Linked DNA regions of Homo sapiens. The protein of the gene in region 4 purifies or fractionates together with the protein of the main gene of each other region. This does not show direct contact. Each region holds a gene or a part of one and is shown on either strand. Other genes may lie near its edges. The genes, in order: PCK1, WDCP, WNK2, SPATA1, VPS39, FLYWCH2 and PPP4R3B.

Evidence for each region.
Region 1: the proteins of SPATA1 (region 4) and PCK1 purify together in Homo sapiens (affinity purification with mass spectrometry; one large-scale study listed by BioGRID and IntAct). This does not show direct contact.
Region 2: the proteins of SPATA1 (region 4) and WDCP purify together in Homo sapiens (affinity purification with mass spectrometry; 2 studies listed by BioGRID and IntAct, with this or other methods). This does not show direct contact.
Region 3: the proteins of SPATA1 (region 4) and WNK2 purify together in Homo sapiens (affinity purification with mass spectrometry; one large-scale study listed by BioGRID and IntAct). This does not show direct contact.
Region 5: the proteins of SPATA1 (region 4) and VPS39 purify together in Homo sapiens (affinity purification with mass spectrometry; one large-scale study listed by BioGRID and IntAct). This does not show direct contact.
Region 6: the proteins of SPATA1 (region 4) and FLYWCH2 purify together in Homo sapiens (affinity purification with mass spectrometry; one large-scale study listed by BioGRID and IntAct). This does not show direct contact.
Region 7: the proteins of SPATA1 (region 4) and PPP4R3B purify together in Homo sapiens (affinity purification with mass spectrometry; one large-scale study listed by BioGRID and IntAct). This does not show direct contact.

What each region holds. Positions count from the first base shown.
Region 1 is NC_000020.11:57,566,366-57,568,621, reverse strand, and holds the end of PCK1 (phosphoenolpyruvate carboxykinase, cytosolic [GTP]), read right to left. Parts: 3' UTR 501-2,256; downstream 1-500. UniProt on the Homo sapiens protein: Cytosolic phosphoenolpyruvate carboxykinase that catalyzes the reversible decarboxylation and phosphorylation of oxaloacetate (OAA) and acts as the rate-limiting enzyme in gluconeogenesis.
Region 2 is NC_000002.12:24,037,392-24,040,891, reverse strand, and holds part of WDCP (WD repeat and coiled-coil-containing protein), read left to right. Parts: intron 1-1,379; 5' UTR 1,380-1,397; coding exon 1,398-3,215; intron 3,216-3,500.
Region 3 is NC_000009.12:93,316,639-93,320,138, reverse strand, and holds part of WNK2 (serine/threonine-protein kinase WNK2), read right to left. Parts: intron 2,620-3,500; coding exon 2,508-2,619; intron 2,267-2,507; coding exon of another isoform or gene 2,065-2,266; exon of another isoform or gene 931-2,064; intron 1-930. UniProt on the Homo sapiens protein: Serine/threonine-protein kinase component of the WNK2-SPAK/OSR1 kinase cascade, which plays an important role in the regulation of electrolyte homeostasis, cell signaling, survival, and proliferation.
Region 4 is NC_000001.11:84,558,386-84,561,885, forward strand, and holds part of SPATA1 (spermatogenesis-associated protein 1), read left to right. Parts: intron 1-3,500.
Region 5 is NC_000015.10:42,201,805-42,205,304, forward strand, and holds part of VPS39 (vam6/Vps39-like protein), read right to left. Parts: intron 1-3,500. UniProt on the Homo sapiens protein: Regulator of TGF-beta/activin signaling, inhibiting SMAD3- and activating SMAD2-dependent transcription.
Region 6 is NC_000016.10:2,886,215-2,889,714, reverse strand, and holds part of FLYWCH2 (FLYWCH family member 2), read right to left. Parts: intron 1-3,500.
Region 7 is NC_000002.12:55,558,623-55,562,122, reverse strand, and holds part of PPP4R3B (serine/threonine-protein phosphatase 4 regulatory subunit 3B), read left to right. Parts: intron 1-3,154; coding exon 3,155-3,348; intron 3,349-3,500. UniProt on the Homo sapiens protein: Regulatory subunit of serine/threonine-protein phosphatase 4 (PP4). May regulate the activity of PPP4C at centrosomal microtubule organizing centers.

The DNA.
Region 1 (2,256 bases), on a different chromosome or scaffold from region 4:
GGTGCATGCTGTTGGCATCCAGAGGGCCGAGTGAGCAGCCCGGGGGTGTCCAGGTTAGGGTGGGTCCCCAGGGAGAGGGAGAGAAGAGAAAGAGCCCTGTAACTCCTGACTCCCAAGTGTGCCCCGGCCCCACCTAGCCACCCCGCCTGCCTACCTGTCAGTGCCCCCTAAGTGACTCGACTGGGAATAAGGGCAGGTTTGTTGTCCTGGTTCAACATTTGCTGTGTAACTATTGTTTTCTGGTCTTTAACCCAGACTGCAACACAGCTTCCTGGAGGTCAGGGGACAGCTCTTACACTGGACTCCAGTAGAGGACGTCAGTCACAGTGTTGGTTTTGGAGTCATGTGGTCCAGTGGTAGACCAGGAATCAGGAGACTCTGGGCTTTCCATCTCACTCCAACCGTATTTTCAAGTGATGAGCCTCTTGCCTTCTGTGAGCTTCCTGCAAGTGGGCTTAGCTTACATACTTTGCATCATCTGAAGGCACGACAAGAGAACATTGAAGAAAGAAGTCATAGGATCCTGTTTATTGTAGACAGGGGTCCGCGCACAAAAATCAGGATTTGGAGACAGAGGGAGCACTCAGGAGGCATGGTTTGGGGAAACTGAGTCAGGAGTTAATGACATATATTGAATCTTTTTGGTCTCCTGAAAACTCTTATGCTGTGTATGTAAGTCACCTCCTCTAGGCTGTCCCCCAGGCTTGCAGGGCCTGCTGGCAAATGGTCCTATGTGAGACTGCTTGCCAGGTGGCTGATGCTGTGCAGGAGGGGAGGGAATTTGGAGATGGCCAGTGTCTTTGCCTGCCGAGGGAGTGGAGACTACTGAAAGCCCGTAATAGGACAGTGGGGCACAAGGCATGCATTTTAACAAAGTTTATCCTGGTGGCCTCTTTCAGGGGTCCAAGGAGCTGCCCAAAGGCCCCCAAGGGGCGGGGAAATGGAGACCAGGTGGCTTGCACTTTGGACTCCCTCCCCAGCTTCAGGTGGGCTGCCTTGGGCTCTGTCTCCTTTAGACATGGGACTCTGAGTCAAGTACATGTCAAGAACGTGTTCCGCAGTGAAAAGGAGAAACAAGTTTGAACGCCACTGATTTAAACTAATACAGCAGATAGCATTTAATTCCAGTAAGTGGTTTTTCCCCTTCGGTGGTTTTGATATTCTAACAAGCCAACGTGTCTGGAGCTAAGACTCTCAGCTCCTTAATGGGGAAGGAAATCCTGGCAATTTCTCAGCCCCGCTGGACGCTCCTAGCTTGACCTCAGTTTCCTCACCTGTAAAATTGGGGTGATCTCAGCTTCACCTTCCATATGAAGCCATTGTAAGGAGCAGAGGAAGTGAGGAAAAGAGGCAAGTTTTCCAGTTGAGGAGACTGGAGGGGTGGAGTGTGACATAAGAACAAGCCTGCCCGCTGGGGTGTGGTAGGGGTGAAGCCAATTTCACAGCCTGGGCCCAAGAAAGAAACTACAACTTGAAGATAATAGTATTTACACAGATTGAATCTGTGATATAAAGTTTATGGTTCGTTTGGACTGTTCTGGAATATCCAATAAACACTGGGAGTAGAGGAGAGCAGGTGAGGGTTCAAGGCAGAGCTGGGGACCAAACCACCCACCTCTCTTCTCGGGCAGCCCATGGTGTTGGCATGATGTCCGGGATACAGAAGGCGCTCAATTAATGCTTGCTCAACCCAGATCCTGTCCCCTTTTCCTTCTCACTTGTCTTCCTCTGCTCCCCCGCGGGGATGACAGTTGAGAAAACTGTTGCTTTGAAGAGTTAAAAGGCAAAATCCTATGAAACTGTCCACAATGTAATTTTTGTGGAAGCCTGAGACCCCTCCAGATCCAAACTGTCAAAAAGCATGCATTAAACCCTCCCAGTCCTGCCACATAAGCCTCACCATCTAAAGGTTTGTAGAATTGTTAAAGGATGCCAACTAGTGGCTTCAGCAAATTCAGAAAACCCCAACCATGGTTCCCTGCCTCATTCCTCCCCATCTGCTCCCTCCTTCTCCCTGGGACCAGGCAATGCACCCCCTCTTCAAGTGTGATTCTGAACGTCCCCACCTTCTTGGGGAGGGGGCAGGATTTAAATCACAAGATATTTAATCAGAGTTCTCTCCTCTTGGTAGCTCAAATAAGAAAAACCAAGCAAAGCAAATCCATCTTTTCTATAAAACTTCATTTTGTAATTTTTTTCCAAGAAGTAGTAAGGGGGAAATATTGCAATTATGTAAAGGTAAGGAACAATGGTGTA
Region 2 (3,500 bases), on a different chromosome or scaffold from region 4:
GGCATGCACCACCACACTTGGCTAATTTTGTATTTTTAGTAGAGATGGGGTTTCTGCATGTTGGTCAGGCTGGGATCGAACTCCCAACCTCAGGTGATCCTCCCGTCTCAGCCTCCCAAAGTACTGGGATTATAGGCGTGAGTCACCACGCCCAGCCCTAAGCATATGCTTCTTTAGTGATTCAAATGCCTGGGGGAAAAATATTCAGGGTGAAAAAATGAAGATAATACTTGCCTAACCTACTTTACATTATTTTAAAAGATTATTGTAAGATAAAATGCAATAGGGAATGTGAAAATGTTCTGAAAATTATTAAGTGCTGTTGAATAAGATGAAGTAGAAGTAGAAATAGAAACAGTGATTTTTGAGTGTCATTTCAATAGAGGGATAAAAGCCACTTTGGAAGGATTTGAAATAAGTGCTAATAAAGTCAGAGATGTGCATATCAGTTATTCATTGATTTGGCAGTGAAAGGACGAATAGAAATTAGATGATGGAGGAGACTTTTCTTAAATTTTTAATTGGAAAATTTTCTAACTTAAAAGTTGAAAGTACCATAAATACTAACATAGCCTCAATCTAGACTCTACAATTATTAACATTTTGCTACATTTGTTTTCTTTCTGTGTGTCTATAGAAAATTTGGGTTTTTTTTGTCAAACCATTTGAAAGCACATTGTAGGCATCATGACATTTTACCCCAAGTGCTTCAACATGCTTATTTAAATAATAAGGACCTTGTCCTGCATAACCACAATACCATGTTCACACTTAAGAAAATTAATAACTCTGGCCGGGCGCGGGAGCTCATGCCTATAATCCCAGCACTTTGGGAGGCTGAGGTGGGTGGATTGCCTGAGGTCAGGAGTTTGAGACCAGCCTGGCCAACATAGTGAAACCCCGTCTCTACTAAAAATAAAAAAAAAATTAGCTGGGCCTGGTGGCAGGCACCTGTAATCCCAGCTACTCTGGAGGCTGAGGCAGAAGAATCGCTTGAACCCAGGAGGCAGAGGTTGAAGTGCGCCGAGATTGTGCCATTGCACTTCAGCCTGAGCAACAAGAGTGAGACTCCGTCTCAAAAAAAAAAAGAAGAAAAATAATAACTCTACAATATTTTCTGATATCCATTCCATACTCAGATTTCCCCAGTTCTAAAAATCTTCATTAGGTAGAAGATTTTATTTCTTCAAGATCCAAAGTATATACATTGCATTTGCCTGATAGCTCAGTAGTCTCTTAATTTATAATACTCCCCCTGTCCTTTTGTCTCTCCACATTATTAACCTGGGAAGGGGCTAAGCCGTTGTCTTACCAAATGTCCTACATTCTAGATTTGTCTAGATTTCTCATGGTGTAACTTTCCTTCTTAATCATTTCAGGTAACCTTTATCAAAAGGATGGAGTTGGGAAAAGGAAAACTACTCAGGACTGGACTGAATGCGTTGCATCAAGCAGTGCATCCGATCCATGGCCTTGCCTGGACCGATGGGAATCAAGTTGTCCTAACTGATTTGCGGCTTCACAGTGGAGAGGTCAAGTTTGGGGACTCCAAAGTCATTGGACAGTTTGAATGTGTCTGTGGGTTGTCCTGGGCCCCACCTGTTGCAGATGATACACCTGTTCTACTCGCTGTCCAGCATGAGAAGCATGTCACTGTGTGGCAGCTGTGTCCCAGCCCTATGGAGTCAAGCAAATGGCTGACGTCTCAGACTTGTGAGATTAGAGGATCACTACCTATCCTTCCCCAGGGCTGTGTGTGGCACCCAAAATGTGCTATTCTGACTGTGTTGACTGCTCAGGATGTCTCCATTTTCCCTAATGTTCACTCTGATGATTCCCAGGTAAAGGCAGACATCAACACCCAGGGCCGCATTCACTGTGCATGTTGGACCCAGGATGGCCTGAGGCTGGTGGTGGCAGTAGGCAGCAGCCTGCATTCTTATATTTGGGACAGCGCTCAGAAGACTCTTCACAGGTGCTCCTCCTGCCTGGTGTTTGATGTGGACAGCCACGTCTGCTCCATCACAGCAACTGTGGACTCACAGGTTGCTATAGCTACTGAGCTTCCATTGGATAAGATCTGTGGCTTAAATGCATCTGAAACCTTTAATATCCCACCTAACAGTAAAGACATGACTCCGTATGCTTTACCAGTTATTGGTGAAGTACGCTCTATGGATAAAGAGGCAACTGATTCTGAAACAAATTCTGAAGTATCAGTTTCTTCTTCCTATTTAGAACCTCTGGATCTAACTCACATACATTTCAATCAACATAAGTCTGAGGGTAATTCTCTTATTTGTCTAAGAAAAAAGGACTACTTGACAGGAACTGGCCAAGATTCTTCACATTTGGTCCTTGTGACCTTTAAGAAGGCAGTTACCATGACGAGAAAAGTCACTATTCCAGGCATTCTGGTTCCTGATCTGATAGCATTTAATCTTAAAGCCCACGTAGTGGCAGTGGCTTCCAACACTTGTAATATAATTTTGATCTACTCTGTCATTCCATCTTCAGTCCCAAACATCCAGCAAATTCGATTAGAGAACACTGAAAGACCAAAAGGGATATGTTTCTTGACAGACCAACTATTACTAATTTTGGTAGGAAAACAAAAACTCACTGATACAACATTTCTTCCTTCTTCAAAGTCTGATCAGTATGCCATTAGCTTGATTGTTAGAGAAATAATGTTGGAAGAAGAACCTTCAATAACATCAGGTGAAAGCCAGACTACCTACTCTACTTTCAGTGCTCCGTTAAATAAAGCAAATAGAAAAAAGTTAATTGAAAGTCTTTCCCCAGATTTTTGTCACCAAAACAAAGGGCTGTTGCTGACAGTTAATACCAGTAGTCAGAATGGAAGGCCTGGAAGAACACTTATTAAAGAAATCCAGAGTCCTCTGTCTAGTATCTGTGATGGCTCCATAGCTCTAGATGCTGAGCCTGTTACCCAGCCAGCATCGCTGCCCAGACACAGCAGCACACCAGACCACACCAGCACACTGGAGCCTCCTCGTTTGCCTCAAAGAAAGAACTTACAAAGTGAAAAGGAAACTTATCAGCTGTCTAAGGAAGTGGAAATTTTATCTAGGAACCTGGTTGAAATGCAACGGTGTCTTTCTGAACTTACAAACCGTCTGCATAATGGGAAGAAATCCTCTTCAGTGTATCCACTCTCTCAAGATCTTCCTTATGTTCACATCATTTACCAGGTAAATTCTCCTTTGAGGAACTACCACTATACATAAAAGCTCCTGCAGCCGGTGAGTACTGCAAGAAACGTATTGATGAGGAAGATGGTGCTCTAACTGAGCTTCACTAAGCTGGGCATGTTATGTTACAGGCAAGTTGGTACACCTTTGCAGGTTGGTTGGTTTTTAGCCTGCCAACCAGATAGGCGCACATATCAGTCTGCATCATGATTTTATCAGGTGCATGACGTGGAAAAATAAATGTCTGCACTAATTCGGGCAATTTATATTTAGAAAAAAAATCAT
Region 3 (3,500 bases), on a different chromosome or scaffold from region 4:
AAACCCAAACAGACGCTCTGCTCCTGTACCGTCTGGAGCATCTGGGGAGTGAGCTGCCCTCCAACACCCAAAACAGGAGGCTCTGGGATGAGTGTTCCTCCTCCCTCCATGCAGAAGCTCGAAGGCTGGCACTGCAGCTCTCTGAGGAGGTGGCCCCACAGCCAAGGCAGCCCCCACAGTGGACCGGGCAGGAGACACTGGGACCCTCAGCTTGCTCACAGTGAGGCCTGCAATGCACACGCAGGAGGGACCACAGTCAGCTCGAGGCTGTCTTTAGTGGGATGCTGGGGGGCTGGCTGCCACCATGCGCTGAGTCCCACAGGATGAGGCCCCACCCTGGATGGCCACCTTCCCTAAGGCCCCTGTGCCTACCAGAAAAGCCACTGCCCCTTGCATGATCCATGGGCAACCCCAGCCCCAAGTCCTCCTCTCAACAAGTCCAAGCTCATCTGAGGAGCTCCCACTTCCCCTGAGCTCGGCCCATCTGGAGCAAAGAGGGTGGCCCCAGGGGCTGCAGCAAGTAATGCAAACCAAGCCTCCTGGAGACAGGGGCTGCAGGTGTGTCTCGCTGACCAGGAGGCTGGCTCCCTCCATCATGGTCACAGCCCGTGGCACTGCTAAGTGTAATCAGGTGCAGAGTGGTGGGCAGCCCAGCCAGCTAACCCGACCAGCAGAGCTGACCGTGCTCGGGGCCCAGGCCACAGCTGGCGGGGGCAGTGTTGGGGGCCAGGCAGCCCTGCCAGATGCCCTGCTCTCAGACCCCTGCCGGGGACAGCCCAGCCCAGCACCCGCAGCCCCTCAGCACCCTCCTCCAGAGGTGTGGATGCAGCTGAGCCCAGAACTGGCTCCCAACTCCTGTGCTCCCTAGGAGGCTGGTTGCTTTGGATTTTATATGGATAGAGGGTAAGAAAAAGATGTTGTTTCACACTGTTTTCGAGCAAAAGTGTTTATTTTTCTCCTTCAGATATACAATCTATTGGGGATTCCGTGCCACTGACCACCATGTACAAGGAAGGGATTCACAGGCAAGGGGGACAGGTGAGGGCAGCCCCCACTTCACTCAAGGAACAGGGCAAGGGGGCCCAGTACAGAGAACAGAAATCTCTTACGACAGCATCGTGCCCTGGCAGAAGATTCTGCATAATCACCTAGAAAATTCAATTCTAACTGAATTGATGGAATAATAGATTTGAACCAAAATAATTTACCCAGTTCTAATAAGTACAGAAACTATACAATTCACAGCTGGGCAGTCCCAAGCAGTCTGCTTTCCAGTGGGAGGTGGAGGAGGCTGGGGCCTTCCCCTCCCACCAAGGGCTGTGTTGTGCCCACTGGGGACGAGTCCCACTGAAATCTCCAGGAGAAGAATGACCCCGCCCTCCGCAGAGCAGGCTTAGGGCTGGACGGGAGAGCGGTCTGCATGCCAGGGGTGAGCAGAGCCACAGGTCTCCATGGAAATCATGGAGAAGGGAGGGAAGTGGGCAGGAGAGAGGGCAGCCTCTCCAGCTGGAGGAGCTGCACTTGTCTCCACAGGGTGGGCGGGCAGCCAGGGTTTCTATGCCCAACACACACCTTATCCTCACTCACAGCAGCCCACTGGCATGGGGGGCATGTCTGCTCACCTAACGTTTTCTGGCGGATTTCTCATGGCCCAGCGCAACAACTGACATTCCCTACTGAGCAAGCAGCTCCGCCAGTGTGCCCTGCCCCAGCGTCCCGCCGTCTCTCAGCCCCTGGATGAGCCCAGGGAACCGGCACTCTACTGAGGACAAAGCAGGGCTCACCTAGCAATGGAAGCTCTTCAATACTTAAGGTAGCTAATTCAATGTTTGTAAAAGGCATTTACAACAGAAAACCAAAGATTGAACTTCAGCTTCAGATTTGTAAACCATTCACATCTCTGCAACTTAAAACAGTAAATAAAGATTATCAATGCACAAGCCAATTGCAAATGAAACCTTTTCCGATAATTTTTTTTAACATATCTTTTCATCAGGGAACGGAAAAGCTGGCATTCAAGGCACTGTACTTCTGCAGGGTGACGACAAGGTTCTAACCATCAACTCAAGTATAGGAAGTGGGTGTGGAGACGGCGCGTGGACCACAGGAACCTAGGAGCGAACAGGGTCTGAAGCCGCAAAGGAAGCAGTCTTGCTGCCCACCCGCTGTCCCCCTCGCGGCTGAGTGCTGTGCCCACAGCAGGCGGTGGGGGGGACTCGGAGGCCAAACCACACCTGGTTTCTCCGGGCGGTTCCGAGGGCGCCATCTGGCAAGGGACAGGGCAGAAGGCTACGTGATCCGCAGCCGGGGGCCAGGCATGCTGACCACAGGTGGCTGCAAGAAGACTGGCAGCACGGGCACCTGGGGGGTGTTCCAGCTGCCCTGTGCCCCCAGCTGGCCCACCTGGCCTGCCCAGGGCCCCCAGGACACTGGAGCTGGGAGCAGGCCTCTGTACTGACCCAGAGGCAGCGCACAGGGTGGGGTTGGGAGGTTGGAGAGGGCAGTACCTGGTGTGGGCACGGACAGGGTCGGGGCGGCTCCGGGAATGACCGTGGTGGACAGAGGGCCGGGCGCTGGGGGCAGACGTGGCATCCCCACTCCTGCTCGAGGTGCGGTCATCTACAAAACACAGAGACGAGAAGAGGAAGGTACACGTGGCTGCAATCAGCTGGCCTCCCTTAGTGGCCCCCAGGGTGCCACAGTTTCTCCATCCTCAGGAGGCAGCAGTCCTGGAACCTGCTGTGACAGGCACCCTCTCAGGGCTGACACCAGAATGATGGTGTGGGGCCAGGAACCATCACCCTCCCTTGTTTGCTTCCCCAAGCTGCAGCCTGATAGCCTCTAGGCCACACACCTGGGTGTCCACCAGCCAAAATGGGACTTGGAGGAGGACTAGTGGGGCCTGGACCCTGAGGGCGCATGAGTGACCCCACATGCCTCTACTCAGCCACCACAAAGCCCTCCTGCTTGGCTGGTCAGTGCCCTCACAGGAGCATGAACCACCCAGGAGCTGGCAGGAGCAGAGCCCCAGGACCTGGGCAAAGCAAGTGTGCAGGGAGGTGATGGCAAGGCAGCCCTTCCACTGTCCCAGCCCGGGGAGAAGCTGTATGCGGGGTGTGCCCCAGGAAGGCAAGGCTGCTGGCCACGGGGAGTCACTCCTCTCCACTCCAGGGAGGGCCCCACTGGGCACTCTTCACAGGTGCATGGAGGGCACTCGGTGACTTCCACAACCCTTCCTGGAAATCAAGCTCGGCAGTCAGGGGCTGGAGGGGCCTCCTTATCTGGAAGGTCCTCTATGGAACCGACAGCTGAGCCCCTGCCCACGACAAAATGCCCAATACCTCCCCAAGGTGCCTCCATGCTTCCAGTCGACACCACGGGGATCTCCAGGCGGGGAGGAAAAGGAGTCAACCGCACAGACTGGACAGAGAGAAGGAGAACTGGCCTCATGCAGATGACAAGACTGTGTATGCAGAAAACCCACAAGAATGGACAAACCA
Region 4 (3,500 bases):
TTCACGCCATTCTCCTGCCTCAGCCTCCCAAGTAGCTGGGACTACAGGCGCCCGCCACTACGCCCGGCTAATTTTTTTTGTATTTTTAGTAGAGACGGGGTTTCACCGTTTTAGCCGGGATGGTCTCGATCTCCTGACCTCGTGATCCGCCCGCCTCAGCCTCCCAAAGTGCTGGGATTACAGGCGTGAGCCACCGCGCCCGGCCACTTTTTTTTAATTAAAAAAAAAAAAGAGGCCAAGTGCAGTGGCTCACACCTGTAATCCCAGCATTTTGGGAGGCCAAGGTGGGAGAATCACTTGAGGCCAGGAGTTCAAGACCAGCCTGGGCAATATAGAAAGACCCCGTCTCTACAAAAAGTAAAAAAATCAGCCTGGCATGATGGCACACGCCTATGGTCCTAGCTACTTGGTAGGCTGAGGCAGGAGGATTGCTTGAGCCCAAGAGGTCAAGGCTGCAGTGAGCCATGATTGTGCCACTGCACTCCATCCTGGGTGACAGAGCAAAACCTCGTCTAAAAAAAAAGAAGAATGTGTTCCTGCATTTTCACATTCATTAAGGAAAAAACAAGCCACAGATTACTAAGGTCAGGATTACAAAGAAACAGTATATGGTAGTATATACTGTCCTAAGATTCTATGTTACATATTTTTAAATTACAGGCATACCTCATTTTATTGTACTTTGCTTTATTGTGCTTTGCAGACATTAAATTTTTTGCAAATTGAAGGTTTATGGCAACTCTATTGAACAAGTCTACTGGTGCCATTTTTCCAACAGCAAGTGCTCATTTTGTGTCTGTGTCACATTTTGGCAATTCTTAAAATATTCCAAACTTTTTCATTATTATTATTATATCTGTTATGATGATCTGCAATCAGTGGTCTTTGATGCTACTATTGTAATTGTTTGTGGGCACCATGAACTGCCCATATAAGACTTAATAACAATATTTGGCTAGGCGCGGTAGCTCACGCCTGTAATGCCAACACTTTGGAAGGCCGAGATGGGAGGATCACTTGAAGTCAGGAGTTTCAAACCAGCCTGGCCAACATGGTGAAACCACATCTCTACTAAAAATACAAAAAATTAGCCGGGCATGGTAGGGCATCCCTATAACCCCAGATATTTGGGAGGCTAAGGCACGAGACTCACTTACACCTAGGAGGCAGAGGTTGCAGTGAACTGAGATTGTGCCACTGCACTCCAGCCTGGGTGACGGAGCGATACTCCATCTCAGAAAAAAAAGACTTAATAACGATATTGAAATTAGACTAATAACCTTACAATGGGAATTTTGCAATGAATAAAAAAGAGGAAGAAAATAGTTATAATTAGATTGTTTTCTGAAGTGACATTAAATGGCCTTCAAGGCTCACCAAAATGTTTCCTGAATTCTAAGAGCTTAAACAATGTGTTGGCCAGGTGCAGTGGCCCATGCGTGTAATCCCAGGCCTTTGGGAGGCCAAGGTAGGCGGATCACTTGAGGTCAGGAGTTTGAGACCAGACTGGCCTACATAGTGAAACCCCATCTCTACTAAAAATATAAAAATTAGCCCGGCATAGTGGCGGGCACCTGTAATCCCACCTATGGGGGAAGCTGAGGAGTAGAATTGCTTGAACCCAGGAGGCAGAGGGTGCAGTGAACCCAGAGGGCGCCACTGCACTACAGCCTGGGCGACAGAGCAAGACTCTGTCTCAAAAAAAAAAAAAAAAAGAAAGAAAGAAAGAAAGAAAGAAAGAAAGAAAGGAAAGAAAGAAAGAAAGAGAAACTAGAATCCCTCTTCCCTAAAATGGGTCATAGAAACTAGAGCCTCTTTTCCCCAAAACCAGCCATAAAGTCTAAAAATGTTACTCTAACCTTTCCCACCACCACCTTTCTGTGTAATAGCTGGCCATAAAGAAATTAAGACCCTCATTCCAGAGAGGTCCTACCCCATACCCATGAGAAGAAATCCTTCACAGAGAGGCCAAGAAAAATCTGAACAGACAGTCCTTGCTGAGTTTTCCCACTCAGTCTGTTTGCATTAGCTCATGCCCTTTATTCTGATCACAGTTCTACATAGCTGTCCATACTTCGTTGAACCTAAGCACAAAAATGGACAGTTTTTCCTGTATCTTTGGGTTTTCATTCTGAAACCTCCCATGTCGGGTAAAATTATGATCAAACACATTTTAAAAGGCAGAGACCCCTTTCTTCAAATAAATCTTATATTGGAAGAAGATGATGCCATTTAAGACTTTGCTAGCTAGACAGGAGAAGTCAATACCTGGCTTTAAAGCTCAAAGTACAGGCTGATTCTCTTGTTAGGGACTAATGAGGGTGGTAACTTTAAGTTGAAGCCAGTGTTCATTTACCATTCCAAAAATCCTATGGCACTTAAGAATTATGCTAAATTGACTCTGCCTGTGATCTATAAATGGAATAACAAAGCCTGGCTCACAGCACATCTGTTTACTGAATATCTTAAGCCCACTGCTGAGATGTACTAAGAAAAAAAAGAGATTTCTTTCAAAATATTACTGCTCATTGACAATGCACTTGGTCACCCAAGAGCTCTGATGGAGAACACAAGATGAATGTTATTTTCATGCCTGCTAACACAACATCCATTCTGCAGCCCATGGAACAAGGAGTAATTTCAACTTTTAACTCTTATTAATTAAGAAATAGATTTTGTAAGGCTGTAGCAGCCAAAGACAGTAACTCCTTTCATGGATCTGGCCAAAGTAAACTGAAAGCTTTTTGGAAAGGATTCACCATTCTAGATGCCATTAAGAACATTCATGATTCATGCATGGGAGGAGGTCAAAATATCAACATTAACAGGAGTTTGGAAGAAGTGGGTTACAACCCTCATGGATGACATTGAGGGGTTCAAGACTTCAGTGAAGGAAGTAACTGCAGAGGTAGTGGAAACAGCAAGAGAATTAGAATTGGAGGTGAATCCTAAATATGTGACTCAATTGCTACAATCTCGTGATAAAATTTGAATAGATGAGGAGCTACTTCTTATGAATACGCAAAGAAAGTAGTTTCTTGAGAATGGAATCTATTCCTGGTAAAATGCTGTGAACATTGTTCAAATAACAGCAAAGGATTTAGAATATTCTATAAACTTATTAATAAAGCAGCAGCAGAGTTTGATGGGGTTGACTCCAATTTTGAAAGAAGTTCTACTGTGGGTAAAATGCAATCAAATAGCATCACGTTTTACACAGAAATCTTTCGTGAAAGGAAGAGTCAATTGACGTGGCAAACTTCACTGTTGTCTTATTTTAAGAAATTGCCATAGCCACCCCAACCTTCAGCAACCACCACCCTGATCAGTCAGCAGCCATCAATGACAAGGCAAGACACTCTTCCAGCAAGCAGGTTATAACTTGATAAAGGCTCAGATGATCGTTATCATTTTTTTAGCAATAAAGTATTTTTAAATTAAGGTATGTACTTTTTTTAGACATAATGCTATTACACACTTAACAGACTACAGTATAGTAT
Region 5 (3,500 bases), on a different chromosome or scaffold from region 4:
AAGGTCACTCATTCCTTTCATAAACTCTCTTGATTCTTGACCTCTGTAAAATAAAATCTTGGATAATGGTACAAATAGATAACTTTTATTGAGCATGTATTGTGTTCCAGGAAATGCTAAACGCATCTGTTATTTCACTAATCCTCACAACTATCCCTTGAAGTAAGTCCTTTTTTCAAATCCCCATTTTATAGATGAGGAAGTTGAGGCCTAGGGAATATATAACTTTTCCAGAGTCACACATGTGGCAAGCAGCAGAGTTGGGATCCCAACCCCAATTTGTCTTGATTCCCAACCACATGCTGTGATGTACTTACTAAGGCACCCATGTCAAAAAAAATGGGTGTCAGCCAAAGGTTGTCTGAATGGCAGTAGTTATATTTATAAAAACAGGTCAGCACCTACATTCCTTATCCAAAGGATCAATAGTATTTCTCCAGGATGATGTTCTTAGTCATCCAGAAAAACAGAGTGATTCTATTTTCTTTGATTTGGGGTCTTAAAGGAAAGGCAGGTCACACACAAAAAAAATGTTGAAATCAGAAATAACAGCAGCTCTAATGAAGGCTGGAGATTTATGCTGCAGCAGAACATGAAAAAATAAAAGAATTCATTTTGCAATATTTGTTTTGTAAAAGATACTATATTTAGAACTTTATAGATATCATGATATCAAGCAATTTAGCAATATTAAAGTTGATTTTTAGGCCACCCACTGATATTTCAGATATAAATAAAATGAAGTGGAAATTTTTTAAAAATCCACTCATAACATACATAAAAATCTACAACCAAAACAAAAGGCCAACATAATGTTCATCATCTTCCCCATCCTTCTCTCTCCACTCTGTCCCCCAAATCCCTGCCAGTTCCTGCTTTTCTTTATCTTTTTTAATAGCCTCAGCTTCCTCCCAAGTCGGCCAGGGTCTATCAATTCTACCTGTAATGGTACCTCATGACAGCCTCCTCCTATAGAGTCTCTCTGGGGACCCCTGTGACACCTTCAACTGGTCTCATTCACTCCATGCATTCTCTCGCATTTGCTGTCAGTTATCTTAGAGCAGATCTCTGATGCTGTCACACTGGGGCTTAAAAAATCCTGTGAAGCTACACTACCAAAATATGAAGTCAAATTCCTAAACATGACATTCAAGAGTCTATTTTCCATTTTTATTGAAATGTTTCTTGCCAATAGATTTTTTAATTTACTTTTTTTTTTTCTTGTGAACCCAAACTAAGACATGACAAAACATTTTAAAAAGTCAAATGTCTAGGGGCCGGGCACGGAGGCCGAAGTGGGCGAATCACTGGAGGTCAGGAGTTTGAGACTAGCCTGGCCAACATGGTGAAACCCCGTCTCTACTAAAAAATATAAAAATTAGGCCGAGTGTGGTTGGCTCATGCCTGTAATCCCAGCACTTTGGAAGGCCAAGGCGGGCAGATCACCTGAGGTCAGGAGTTCAAGACCAGTCTGGCCAACACAGTGGAAACCCATCTCTACTAAAAATACAAAAAAAATTAGCCAGGCATGGTGGTGTGTGTGCCTGTAATCCCAGCTACTCAGGAGACTGAGGCAAGAGAACTGCATGAACCCCGGAGGGAGAGGCTGCAGTGAGCTGAGATCGTACCACTGCACTCCAGCCTGGGTGACGGGGCAGGACTCTGTCTCAAAAAAAAAAAAAAAATTAGCCAGGTGTGCTGGTGAGCACCTGTAATCCCAGGTACTAGGGAGGCTGAGACAGGAGAACCACTTGAACACTGGCGGCGGAGGTTGCAGTGAGTGGAGATTGTGCGCCATTGCACTCCAGCCTGGGTGACAAGTGTGAAATTCTGCCTCCAAAAAAAAAATTAATTAAAAAAATAAAATGTCTATTCTACTGGTCATAAAAGGGAATCAATCCGATGGATTAAATTCTCTGTAAACTTTTAAATCAACCTGATTGATTACATGTGCCATTAGCCAGAGGACCTGTCCCATGTTGGGTCCTCCACTCTCTAGGACACGTTATTTAACAAAGCTGTGCATGCACAACACAGAGGATGACAAGCCTGCAGAGCACGCGCAGCATGGGATGGACAGTGCCTTCTGAGACTCAATACAGTAACACACAACAGAAAGTGAGACATACTAAGCAAACACAAAACGCACACATAAGCAAAGCAGTATCAGCCCTAAAAAACTCCTGACGGCCTAACCCTGAGCCACAAGGTTGGACTTAATTCCTCCTGAGAAGGAGGGCTAGGCCCTATTGCTCATAATTACCCTAATGGAGCTCCTTCCAACAGTGCAATGCAGTCCAACTTCATGTAATAAATTCCATTTCTGGCCCAATGCTGGCCACTGCAGGGACCACAAAGATAAGTAAGATAGTAGTCACTTCCCTTCGTTGGGTAACATGGCAAATAACAGTACTTCTCATCTGGGCATAAGCCCCCAATTAGCTGCATTAGAATCACCTGGACTTATTAAAAATGCACATTCCTGGGCCCTGCACATGGAGATTCAGATTCAATGGCTTTGAAGTGGTACCCTGAAATTTACATTTTAAAATTTAATCTTGTTGGCTGGGCAAAGTGGCTCACGCCTGTAATCCCAGCACTTTGGGAGGCCGAGGTGGGCGGATCACCTCAGGTCAGGCGTTTGAGACCAGCCTGGCCAACATGACGAAACCCCGTCTCTACTAAAACTACAAAAATAAGCCAGGTATGGTGGTGGGTGGCAGTAATCCTAACTACTCGGGAGGCTGAGGCACGACAGTGGCTTGTACCTGGGAGGCAGAGGTTGCAGTGAGCTGAGATTGCACCACTGCACTTCAGCCTGGGCGACAGAGCGAGACTCAGTCTCAAAAAATAATAATGAAATAAAATAAAATAAAATAAAATTAAATTAAATTTTATTTGTTTTTATGAAACATTCATGTAGTTCCAAAGCTAAAACGACGAAAAGTCTAGTTTCTATCATTGTCCATTTTATCCTCTCTTCTCCCTTCTGCTATGGGCATCATTTTAGTAATTTTTGACTTATCTTTCCATTGTTTCTCTGGAAAATATAGGTATGTATGTATATATAGACATACAGATACTCATATATACATGTGAAGTCTGCATTTTTTACAGGCTTTGAATATACATTCAAGTTTGAGAACCAGGCTCTAGAAGCAGACATGATTTACAGGACATGTGACCTTGGAAAAATTTCTTAAATTTTCTAAGCCTTAGGTCTTTCTTCTGTAAAATGGAGTCTTATTTTATAAAAGCCTAATACAGATTAGCATTTAACAACTGCAAGCTATTACTATTCATATTAACATTATTCATTAAATATATATTTAATGAATACCCATTGAGTCAGGAAATGTTTTAGGTACTGCAGATATAGCAATGCAGAAAACAAAGATACTGCCCTGAGGGAACTTATATTCTAATGTGGAGTGAGAGAGGCAATAATAATTAAATATATAAAATAACAGTAGATGGTGACCCATGATTAGAAGATAAGG
Region 6 (3,500 bases), on a different chromosome or scaffold from region 4:
TGCCTCTCGGACTTTTCTATAAAGCTAAAATAATTCCAAAATAAAAAGTTTTTTTTAAAGGTAAGTAGCTAGCTGCATTAATATGACCCAAAACATTAACTATTTTATCACAGAAAACCCAGCATAAGCAACTTTGCTCTTTTTCAGGTTGTTTTTTTTTTTTAATATAGTCTTTCCTAGTGCTTTTTCTTTAAAAGTAAAGGTTGGCCGGGCGCAGTGGCTCACGCCTCTAATCCCAGCACTTTGGGAGGCTGAGGCGGGTGGATCACAGGGTCAGGAGATTGAGACCATCCTGGCTAACACGGTGAAATGCCATCTCTACTAAAAATACAAAAAATTAGCCGGGCATGGTGGCAGGCGCCTGTAGTCCCAGCTACTCGGGAGGCTGAGGCAGGAGAATGGCGTGAACCTGGGAGGCAGAGCTTGCAGTGAGCCAAGATCGGGCCACTGTATTCCAAGCTGTGTGACAGAGCGAGACTCCGTCTCAAAAAAAAAAAAAAAAAAAGTAAAGGTTAGAAGAACAGATTGAAAAATGACTGTATACACATGTATACACACACACAAACAACAACAACAACAACAAAAAAACACCAAATTTTGAGCAAAATGGCCCTGACAAAGGTTGCCTGGTAGGAACTGTGTTTTATGAATCATTTTTATGCGTTCTGGAAAAACACAAGTGATACTTTTCTGAATATCAAATTTCAGTTAATCATAGTGTTTAATACCTCATTTTCAAAAATGACAAATATTTCTTTTCTACAATTAGTCCCATGCACACCTCCTAAGTAGTGCAATAATAAATTTGCTTCCATGACTTTTTAACTTAAAAAGTTACTTCTGCTCTTAAAAACCATGATATTTGCTCTAGCTCATGAAGCTGCAGAGAAATAATTCCACAGAATCTCAGAGAAGTGAAGGTTATGAAGATCTCCTCATACTCTCCATTTGGAGGACAAGGTAGCCAAGAAGAAGCCAGTCCTGGGACTTCCTCCAGGATAAGAGGCTTAGCTGGTCAAGCTGGTCAGCCCACAGGACTGGAGCACCTACTGGGCTTCAGGTTCCCCAAGAAGATCATGACATTGTTGAAAGAAATTAAAGAAGCCCTAAACAAATGGAAAGACATCCCATGTTCATGGATTGGAAGACTTGATATTGTTAAGATGACAACACTTCTGACATTGATCTATAGATTCTTAATTCCAGCTGGCTTTTTTTTTTTTTTTTTTTGGAGAAACTGACAAGCTGGTCCTAAAATTCATATGAAAATTCAAGGAACCCAGAATAGCAAAAACAATCTTGAAAAAAAAAAAACTTGCAGGACTGACACATCTCTATCTCAAAATATATTATCACAAAGCTACAGTAATCAATACAATGTGGTACTGGCATAAAGACCGACACAGGCCGGGCACAGTGGCTCATGCCTGTAATCCCAGCACTTTGGGAGGCCAAGGTGGGTGGATTGCCTGAACTCAGGAGTTTGAGACCAGCATAAGCAACATGGTGAAACCCCGTCTCTACTAAAAATACAAAAAATTAGCCGAGTGTGGCGGCATGCAACTATAGTCACAGCTACTCGGAAGGCTGAGGCAGGAGAATTGCTAGAACCCGGGAGGCGGAGGTTGCAGTGAGCCGAGATCACGCCACTACACTCCAGCCTGGGCAACAGAGCGAGACTCCACCTCTTAAAAAACAAACAAACAAACAAACAAAACACAGACACAGAGATCAACAGAATAGAACTGAGAGTCCAGAAATACACTCTTATATATATGGTGAACTGATTTTCAGCAAAGGTGGCAAGACAGTTCTGTGGAGGGAAAATAGTCTTAACGACAAATGTTGGGCCAGGCGTGGTGGCTCATGCTTGTAATTCCAGTACTTTGGGAGGGTGATGTAGGAGGATCGCTTGAACCCAGGAGTTCCAGACCAGCCTAGGCAACATAGTGAGATCTCATCTCTAAAAAAAATATTATTAACCAGGGTGGTGGGGCACATATGTAGTTCCAGCAACTTGGGAGGCTGAGGTGGGAGCGTTGCTTGAGCCTGGGAGGTCAAGGCTGCAGTAAGCTGTGATTGTGCTGCTGTACCTCAGCCTGGGTGACAGAGCAAGACTCTGTCTCAAAAAATAATAATAATAATAATAAAAACAAACATTAAATGCTAGGACCACTGAATATCCAATACAAAAGAATGAAGTTGTATGCTTTCCTCACAGCATATACAAAAATTAACTCTAAATAAATTATATGGCTAGGCATGGTGGCTCATGCCTATAAACCTAGCACTTTGGGAGGCTGAGGTGGGCAGATCTCTTCAGCTCGGGAGTTCAGGTCTAGCCTGGGCAACATGGCGAGACCTCATCTCTACTAAAAATACAAAAAAAAAAAAAAAAAAAGAAAGCCGGGCATGGTGGTGTGCACCCGTGGTCCCAGCTACTTGGGAAGCTGAGGTGGAAGGATTGCTTAAGCCAGTGGGGCGGAGGTTGCAGTGAGCCGAGATTGCACCACTGCACTCCAGCTTGGGTAACAGAGTGAGATCCTGTCTCAAAACAACAAAAAAACAAAAAATTATAGTTTATTACAAGAGCTACAGTAATAAAACTTTTTTTTAAAAGAAAAACTAAATTCTCATAACCTTAGATTAGGCAAAGCTTTCTTCAATATAATGAAAGGCACAAACAACCAATGAAGAAATAAACTGGACTTCAACTAAGTTTAAGAGTTTTGTGTTTTAGCCATAAAACTTTTGAAAGTTAAGAGATAACCCATAGAATGGGAAAAAATGTTTGCAAATCATATATCTGATAAGGGACTTGTATCTGGAATTTATAAAGAACTATTACAACTCAGTAATAAACAAGCAAACAAACAAACAATTTAAAAATGGGCGGCTGGGCATGGTGGCTCACACCTGTAATCCCAGCACTTTGGGAGGCCGAGGCAGGTGGATCATCTGAGGTCGGGAGTTCGAGACCAGCCTGACCAACATGGAGAAACCCTGTCTCTACTAAAAATACAAAATTAGCCAAGCTTGGTGGCACATGCCTGTAATCCCAGCTACTCAGGAGGCTGAGACAGGAGAATTGCTTGAACCCAGGAGGCGGAGGTTGCGGTAAGCTGAGATTGCACCAGTGCACTCCAGCCGGGACAACAAGAGCAAAATCCGCCTCAAAAAAAAAAAAAAAAAAAAAAAGGACAAAGGGGCAGGGCGTGGTGGCTCATGCCTGTAATCCCAGCACTTAGGGAGGCTGAGGCAGGAGGATCACCTGAGGTCAGGAGTTCGAGATCAGCCTAGACAACATAGTGAAACCCTGTCTCTACTAAAAATACAAAAATTATTTTCTTTTTTGGATTGGTGGCATGGTGGCACATGCCTGTAATCCCAGCTACTCAGGAGGCTGCGCAGCATGAGAATTGCTTGAACCCGGGAGGTGGAGATTTCAGTGAGCCGAGGTGGCGCCACTGCACTACACTGCACTGCAGCCTGGGCATCAA
Region 7 (3,500 bases), on a different chromosome or scaffold from region 4:
GAAACAACCAGATCTCGTGAGAACTCACTATCACAAAAATAGCAAGGGGGTTTTCTGCCTCCATGATTCAGTCATCTCCTCCAACACCTGGGGATTACAATTCACAATGAGATTTGGGTGGGGACAAGAGCCAAACCATATCATTCCACCCCGGTCCCTCCCTAATTTCATGTCCTTTTTACATTTCAAAACCAATCATGCCTTCCCAACAGTCCCCCATAACTCATTCCAGCATTAACTCAAAAGTCCAAGTCCAAAGTCTCATATGAGACAAAGTAAATCCCTTCTGCCTGTGATCCTATAAAATAAAAAACAAGTTAGTTACCTCCAAGATACAACGGGGGTACAGACATTGGGTAAATGCTCCCATTCCAAATGGAAGAAATTGGCCAAAACAAAGGGGCTACAGGCCCTGGGCAAGTGCAAAGCCCAGCAGGGCAGTCTTTAAATCTTAAAGCTCCAAAATAATCTCCTTTGACTCCATGTTTCACATCCAGGGCATGCTGATACAACAGGTAGGCTCCCAGGGCCATGGCTGGCTTCGCCCCTATGGCTTTGCCAGGTACAGCCCCCATGGCTGCTTTCATGGGCTAGAGTTGAGTGCCTGTGGCTTTTCCAGGTGCATGGTGCAAGCTGTTGGTAGATCTACTGTTCTGGGGTCTGGAGGATGGTGGCCCTCTTCTCATGGCTCCACTAGGCAGTATCCCAGTGGGGACTCTATGTGGGGGCTCCAACCTCACATTTCCCTTCCGCACTGCCCTAGTAGAGGTTCTTCATAAGAGCTCTGCCCCTGCAGCAGATTTCTGCCTAGATATCCAGGCATTTCTATATGTCTTCTGAAATCTAGGTGGTTTGAGAATCAGAGGTTACCAAACCTCAGTTCTTGCCTCTACCCCACAGGCCCCGTGTCACATGGAAGCCACCAAGAGTTGGGGCTTGCACGCTCTAAAGCCATGGCCCAAGCTGTACCTTGGCTCCTTTTCGCCATGGCTGGAGCTGCAGCACCTGGGATGCAGGGTGTCCCAAGACTGCACAGAGCAGCAGGGCCCTGGGCCCAGCTCACAAAACCATTTTTCCCTCCTAGGCCTCTGGGCCTGTGAATTAACATTTGGCTCCTTGTTACTTATTCAGATTTCTGCAGCCAGCTTGAATTTCTCCCCAGAAAATGGGGTTTTCTTTTCTACTGCATGGTCAGGCTGCAAGTTTTCCAAACTTTATGCTCTGCTCCCTTTTAAATATAAATTCTAATTTCAGACCATCTCTTTCTTCATGCATATGAGCATACGCTTTTAGAAACCGCCAGAAGGCCTCTTTTTTTTTTTTTTTTTTTTTTTTTTTTTTTTTCTGAGATGGAGTCTCTCTCTGTTGCCCAGGCTGGAATGCAGTGGCATGATCTCAGCTCACTGCAACCTCTGCCTCCCAGGTTCAACTGATTGTCCTGCCTCAGCCTCCCAAGTAGCTGGGACTATAGGTGTGTGCCACCACGCCCAGCTAATTTTTGTATTTTTAGTAGAGACAGGGTTTCACCCTGTTGGCCAGGCTGGTCTCCAACTCCTGACTTCGTGATCCGCTTGTCTCAGCCTCCCAAAGTGCTGGTGTTACAGGCATGAGCCACTGTGCCCAGCCCAGGCCACCACTTGAATGCTTTGCTGCTTAGAAATTTCTTCCACCAGATATCCTAAATCATCTCTCTCAAGTTCAAGTTCCACAGATCTCTAGGGCAGGGGCAAAATGCCGCCAGTCTCTTTGCTAAAGCATACCAAGTATGACCTTTACTCCAGTTCCGAATAAGTTCCTCACCTCCATCTGAGACCTCCTCAGCCTGGACTTCATTGTCCATATCACTGTTAGCATTTTGGTCAAAACCAGTCAACAAGTCTTTAGGAAGTTCCAGACTTTCCCATATCTTCCTGTCTTTTTCTAAGCCCTCCAAATTGTTCCAACCTCTGTCTATTACCCAGTTCCAAAGTCGCTTCCACATTTTCAGGTATCTTTTTTTTTGAGATGGAGTCTTATTCTGTCATCCATGCTGGTGGGCAGTGGCACAATCTCAGCTCACTGCATCCTCTGCCTCCAGGGTTCAAGCAATTCTCCTGCCTCAGCCACCAGAGCAGCTGGGATTATAGGTGTGCACCACCACCCCCAGCTAATTTTTGTATTTTTAATAGAGAATAGGTTTCATCATGTTGGCCAGGCTGATCTTGAACTCCTGACCTCAAGTGATCCACCCTCCTCAGCCACCCAAAGTGCTGGGATTACAGGCGTGAGCCACTGCGCCCTGCCATTTTCAGGTATCTTTATAGCAGTACCACATTCCTGTTACCAATTTTCTGTATAGTTCGTTTTCACACTGCTCTAAAGAACTACCTGAGACTGTAATTTATGAAGAAAAGAGGTATAATTGACTTAAAATTCCACATAGCTGGGGAGGCCTCAGGAAACTTGTGGCGGAAGGTGAATGGGAAACAAGGCATGTGTTACATGGCAGCAGGAGAGAGAGAGCAAGGGGGGAAGTGCCACCCTTTGGAACAACCAGATCTCGTGAGAACTCACTATCACAAGAACAGCAAGGGCGAAATCCACCCCCATGATCCAGTCACCTCTCACCAGGTCCCTCCCCTGACATGTGGGGATTACAATTTGATTTGCGATTTGGGTGGGGACACAGAGCCAGACCATATCATCACTGTACACATCATGTTCTTTTTCAAAAGTTCTTAGGAAACAAAGGCAATTAATTTTGGTGTTATTTTTTTTTGTTTTTTTGGTTTTTTTTGAGACGGAGTTTCGCTCTTGTTGCCCAGGCTGGAGTGCAGTGGTGCGATCTCGGCTCACCACAACCTCTGCCTCCCAGGTTCAAGTGATTCTCCTGCCTCAGCCTCCCAAGTAGCTAAGATTATAGACATGCGCCACCACACCCGGCTAATTTTGTATTTTTAGCAGAGACGGGGTTTCTCCATGTTGGTCAGGCTGGTCTTGAACTCCGGCCTTGGGTGATCTGCCTGCCTCAGCCTCCCAAAGTGTTGGGATTACAGGCGTGAGCCACCATGCCCGGGCAGCAATGTTTTATAAGTTTTTTAATTACTGCTGTTTTTAGATGTTTTGACTTAGCAGTATTTATTGATATACGTTCAAAATTTTACTTTTGCTTTAGCAAAAGAAAGTGAAGACAAGGAAAACCTTCCCAAAAGGACATCTCCTGGTGGCTTCAAATTTACTTTCTCCCACTCTGCCAGTGCTGCTAATGGAACAAACAGTAAATCTGTAGTGGCTCAGATACCACCAGCAACTTCTAATGGATCCTCTTCCAAAACCACAAACTTGCCTACGTCAGTAACAGCCACCAAGGTAGGTGAAACAGCATTACACACAAACTTTGCTTTTCCCGTCTGTGAGATTTTTTCATGTTTACTGAAAAAAATTTGGATAATCAAAACAATTTCAATGAATTGTTTAGAATTTTTCTGTTACCAAAATGTTGATTGTAGAATTTTATTTTA